2 separate regions of the Homo sapiens genome follow, and region 1 is linked to region 2. Evidence: fine-mapped expression QTL. A gene starts in region 2. The other region holds a variant in brackets. All regions are shown on one strand. Distances are from middle to middle.

Region 1 (2,913 bases), 920 kb after region 2:
CACTTTCCAAAAAGGCAATTTTATATTGGAAGTATGGTAAGGCAGCCTTCTTTCAGCTCTTTCTCATATAATTTCCTAACACTTGAAGCACTTTAATTTCACTAGAACTTACGGATGATGAAGGAGGGTATTTTGTGGATATTGGGCAGAGTTAGATTTTGTGGGCTAAGGGTTTTTTTGTGGGTTTTTTTTTTTTTTTTTACTTTTTAACACAAATATTTCCAATTGTGTGGGCCCTTCATGCTGGAGTGTTTGAGTATTTGAGCAATATTAGCAGTATTACCAGAAGATTGGGAGAGGGATAGAGGAGCTGGTGAGGAAGAGGGGATGGGATTAGGTAGAGGCATGATGGAGGCCACAGGAGAAAGAGGCTGCTGACTTATGCAACATATAATTCCAAAGAGGGTTTAGGTTCATGTCTCATCTCTAGAGAAATGTCCTAAGAAGAATAATCCATCCAGGTAAGGCCCCATCCTTCCCACATCTGTCCTGATGTTTAGGACCCCAGAAGAAAATTATTTATAGAATAATAAGGGTTAAAACATCACCAAAATGGAAACAAATATATATGCTTCTTCACAACCAAGGGAACCAGGTTTGTCTGTTTTTTTAAATCACAGGCATCTTGTGATTTGGGCCAAATTCCTGTCATTCATGATGGATCTCACAAGAGCCTTCGTGGTATAGAGAGATCCCAAACATGAAACTGCTCACCCCTAGTGCTGCCAAAGTTGTTTTTCTCCCTTTCAATCACAGGCAGCTGGGGGATGGGGGGAGAGCCAAGACATTAAATACTAAGAAATTAGTTTACAACTTTTGCAGATGTGATATTAAAAACATAAAATTCAATGCAATGAAGCAGTGCAGGGCAAATTGTGTTGATCCAGTGCTGGGAATAAATCTATGAGCTTTCAAGACCAAGAAACATCTATTGCACTCACAGGAGAATCAGCCATCTGAGGAGTATAGTGTACTCTGCAGAAAAAGAGTGGAACAAGGAGGTTAGGCCGGGCATGATGGCATGCACCTGTAGTCCTAGCCACTTGGAAGGCTGAGGCAGGAGGGTCACTTGAGCCCAGGAGTTTGAGGCTGCAATGAGTTATGATTGGTCCACTGCATTCCAGCCTAGACAACATAGTGAGACCTTGCCTCTAAAGTAAAATAAAAAGAATGGGACAATGAGGGTCCAAGGACTCAGCCAAGAGGGCAGTAGCAGGATTCAGATGAGGTTCCAGATACAGCAAGCTGTCGTGTGGGGATGGGGCAGCACCAGGCAATGAAGAATCACCAAAAATGTAGCAAGACTGAGCAGATTGTACTCAGCTCTGTGTCTACTGAAGGAAGAAATACTTGAAGAGCCCTTGGTTTGAAGTGTGAGA[C/T]CCTCAATGCACCAGCTGAAGTAACAGCAGATTGATGCTAACCTGACTTCTAGAAAGGGTAGTTCCTGTTACCTCTAGGGCTTTGGTTTTGCTGAGGAGCCTGCAAGCTGGACCACAGCTGAACTTTCTTGAAACTTTGAAGAGAGCCCCCTGTACCCCTAGTCCAATGAGACTCATTAAGGACCTCTGATCTCCATTGTTCTAAGATAACACACTTGGATTGTTTAAGCCACTAAGTTTGTAGTCATTTGTTACAGCACCAACAGGAAACATACAGCATTGCACTGCCACTTGGAAAGGTGGAGAGATAACAAGAGAAATTTAACTGAACCCCATTGTTATGCCTAAAGAATATTGAGCTCCCAAAGCTCAGAAAAAGCCAGCTAAGGAGAATGGAAAAAATCCAATAGCATGGTGGTAATGTGTAACCAGTGTAGGAAAGTTATCATCTCCTTGGCCAAGGTAGCCTCGGATGAGAGAAGTGGGGAAAGATTCCTCAGTTTGGCCACTAGGACTATATCCAAGGGCACACTGTCCCTGCCACCTTGGAGCCTACACTGAGGATGCTACTGCAGTGCATGTTCTAATCAGAAGGCAAGGAATTCCAGCATGTGTGTCTACACACATACATGCACACACGCGTACACGCACGCGCACACACACACACTCAGATGGAATTTATACTGCACTCTGATAAAGATTTAAGCAGTTATTTCTTCTTTGAGTCAGTTGATTGATTTCAAAGCCAGTCCCTACCTGTTTTTTACACAAGAAGCAGTCTCAGTGCCTAGGCCTCTCTTTTCTTACCTCTCTCTTTAACCCTTCTGTCCCCACCTCCACCACCATCCAGAGACTACCACACTCAGAAATATTCCACCTCCTTGAGGAAATAATACCTTTCTTATGTCTTGTAAACTTCATAGCCTCCAGAGATGAATATTAAAAATCTGTTTTTCTCCTCCCAGTTCTTGTTTTTCTCAGCAGGGAAGGCGTAAATTTTGGTCGCAGTGACCGCTGGCTTTGTGTGACCTGGGAAAGCAAAGCAGCGCCGAAGATAAGCTCTGGTCTGATGATAAGGAGATGATGACATATGAGCATTTCCACCTTAGCCTGTAATTTATTTCTCGAATACATTATATATTTATATCTCAACACAGATCAATCATTACCAGCAATGAGTAACTGATAAAGCATGAGAGAAAGAGGTCTCTAAGCAAGAGAAGACTGCGGGAAACAAGAATATAACATGCTTGGGGTGATATAGGTAGGTGAAGGAACCCAAGAAGAAGTTTATGGGACATCATGAAGTATAGGTGAAAGTGACATTCAGTAAGGGTTCTAACTGGTGTTGGGGGGAAGACAGAGTTGGTATTGGGAGAGCTGAAACAGAAGGGAAGACACTTTTAGGAACAAGAGAGGAGCAGGCTAGCAATGAGGGAGGCTGTGACTGAGTGGCAGTCTGTAGCCATATAGGGCAACAACAAGAGACCCATGGCAGCACAGCAAGGTCAGGCAGCCTGTTTGGCAGCAACCT
Region 2 (2,913 bases):
TTCTTATTCTAGTGAGAGCTGAACACCAAGGGAGACAATTTCGAATAGTTGGAAAATAATTACCTACTCATCAAGGGTCGGTACAACCTCATTCCATTTTTACAGTAGTTTCTAGAAGTACATGTATCATTTATTTGAGATTTATAATCAATATCTTAGCGTATATGAACACAGCCATAGCTGTAGAAATCACATTTCTATAATAATGCAAAGGCATTTATGTTAATAAATCTGTTTGTAATCTCTGTCATTATGGTTGGGTGTCAATAAGTGAAACTAAAAGGATGTGGAAAATTTCATAACATGTTTTATGCTAGTTATTTGTTTGTTGTCTATTCATGGGGTTACTAATTACAACTGGTAAAAGTTGATTTTCTCCTCTTCAGTTTATTGTGGGATGGGGCGTTCATTTCGCCAGATACACAGTTATTCAGTGTCTACATTTCAGAAGCTGAATTGCTGGATATAGTCAAAATGAGCTTTGGCAATTCCATGTGTGAGTGTACAACTATAATTTTGCTGCACATTAATAACAACCTTGCAAAGAAGCCCAGAATCAAATGCCTTGCTCTCAGCTGGGAGCAGAAAGCTAGAGTGGTATATCTTGGCTGGTGACCTATAATGTTGGAAAAGTAGGCTCTACATTCACTCAGAAGGAGTAGGTGGAATTCCGGAAATTTATTCACTCTCCTTCACTACGCCTTTTCCTTTTTTTTTTTTTTTCCTTCCTTGTAGTGTGTTAGTGAGTGCTCCGAGACAATGAAAAAAAACAATGAATTACAGACAATAAAAATAGTGCATCTCTAGAACAAGCGGTAAAATCAAGGCTTTTATTTCTTCAGGTGTCAACTCTGTTCCTTCCCCAGGTCCTACCCTGCCCAGGTTTCTGTGGCACCTCTGTGATTCCAAATCAGCGATCAGGTGGGCAGCGGTCTGGGCAGTCACCCACAGGGAGTACACTTGGTGCTGCACGTTCGGACTTTCAGTCTTGCTCAAAGCAAAGAATCTCCAAGAGCGCTGAGGCTACGGATTCATTCGGGTGGGGCGAGGTGTTATTATTGTGGGATTGTCTCTGCAGAGTTGGCCTGGAGAGTGAGCGGTGGAGGGAGTGGAACAAGGCTTCGTCAAGAGTCCCCAGGAGTCCAGGGGCGCCCCCGAGACGGGTACGCTGGAGGGCCTGGGCACGGGGGACAAGAGAGAATACATGCCTGCTCGCTGGGAGCAGGGAGGCGGTGTGGCGGGGCAGGGGGCAACGTGCCAGTTTTCTTTCTGATTAATGATGCTCACGCTGCTGCGCGTGGCTCATGCGCTTTGTCTCCAGCCTTAGGGCTGGCGGAGAACGGCCCAGGGAATGAGTGGTACCGCGGGCGCCCGGCGCACCCAGCAGGTGCCATCACTCTGGATGGGCCAGTTCTGGATGCTCCCAGTGGCGCAGAGGCGGCGACACTGGCAGGCGTCCGGCTGCCGCCACCTCCCGGGTGTGGCGGGTCTGGGGCCCGGGGTCTCCGGCCAGAGCAGCTGTGGAGCCACGTGCAACACGCGCGTTGCCCTCAGCCCGGGCGGGGACCGGACGCATCCGGAGCTGCGGGGAGGAGCCGGGCGCCGCCCCCGGCGGCAGTGCCAGCCGCGTGGGAGGGCACGGACCGGCGGAGGGGCAGACGACGGAGGCGGCCAAGCTGGAGGAACGGGACCGAGGGATCGACCGAGGCTGGCTGGCTAGGGGTGGGACTGGCAGAGCTACGGACAGGTGGGAGCAGTCAGACAGCCTGAGAGAGGGAGACCAGAACGCAAAGAGAGCGAGAGCATTAAGTAGGCAGGGAGAGGCACACAGAAAGATAGACAGCAACACTCGCGTGCTCCCTCCCTCCACACGCCCTCCTCTTACCGAGCGAAGCGGCCAGGGGCACAGAGTGGGAGAGGACTGTGGGCACAGAAGACCGGAAGAGGGACGCTGCATTGCTGGTGGGACGGAGGGATTCGGACGGACGGACAGACCAGCGCACAGACTGGCAGCCTGCGAGAGTGGCAGCTTTGAGAGCAGAGCGCAGCAAAGCGAGAATCCCGCGCCGAGCTGCTAGTCGGACCCACAGACGGTCGGACTGACAGACGTGCAGACGGACAGAAGAGCAGACAGGAGGCGGGGGCGCGTTCACTCCCGGCGGCCAGCCGGCCAGAGAAGGCGGCGGTGGCACCTTCTGAGCGCGTCCGGAGCAGAGACCAGCAGCAGCAGGGGCAGCGGGGACACAAGCCGCGACCGAGCCGCCGCCGCAGCCCTGGCTGCCACAGCTGTGTGGGATCCCAGCCGACACTGCAGAAAGCTCCTTTTACTAGCAGTTAAATAAATCGACCAAAAACAAAACAAACAAACAAACCCAACAACAACAACAACAACAAAAGCCAAGCCAAAAGCCAAAACAAACAAATCCAGCCAAATCAATCATTGAGAAACAATAATATTAATAAAATCCAAAACTAAATCAAACCAATCAAGGCACCAAGACGCAGGGGGGATATCCACAGTTCGATCAAGGTAATAATCAAGGTCTTCCGACGTGAACATTGCACGCCTTTTGTGGATTTTTAGAATTCCTTCTTTCTTTCTGCCATATATCTGTCTGTTTCTTTTGAATTTTTTCTTGTCTGTATTTCTTCTTCGTGTTTGTAGAAAGCTGATGTTGTTATACATGTATTGTGTTTTTTATGTTTCGTCAAGGAGGGATGGACGCTCCTTCCCCCAGAAAAGACAGAAATGGAAAGCTGGAAGTTGGCAATGATTTTCATCAGAGAAGTCTACAGTGATTTGTATAGGCTTTATGGTAGAAAGTTTGCAATGCTCTTTTTGAAAGAGACCTATTGAAGAGGTAGAAAGTTATACTCTGTTTGTTGTCCTGGAAGGATTGGGGTCCTAGGTCC

Direction of the effects. Alleles are on the strand shown, and positions count from the first base shown. SD is a standard deviation of normalised expression in the study named.
As copies of C replace T in region 1, the expression in subcutaneous fat of the gene that starts at base 1,657 in region 2 goes down (large effect, 0.92 SD a copy in FUSION).

Evidence for each region.
Region 1: its variant is fine-mapped to the expression of ARPP21 in subcutaneous fat (FUSION, PIP 0.92).

Annotation. Positions count from the first base shown.
Region 1 is chr3:36,554,319-36,557,231 of GRCh38, forward strand. No RefSeq gene overlaps it. Among named protein-coding and RNA genes, the nearest start is that of STAC, 180 kb to the left of the region's middle. The variant C/T (reference allele first, on the strand shown) is at 1,380.
Region 2 is chr3:35,637,869-35,640,781 of GRCh38, forward strand. ARPP21 (cAMP regulated phosphoprotein 21) reads left to right here and starts at 1,657. Exons shown (of 21, transcript NM_001385562.1): 1 at 1,657-2,530.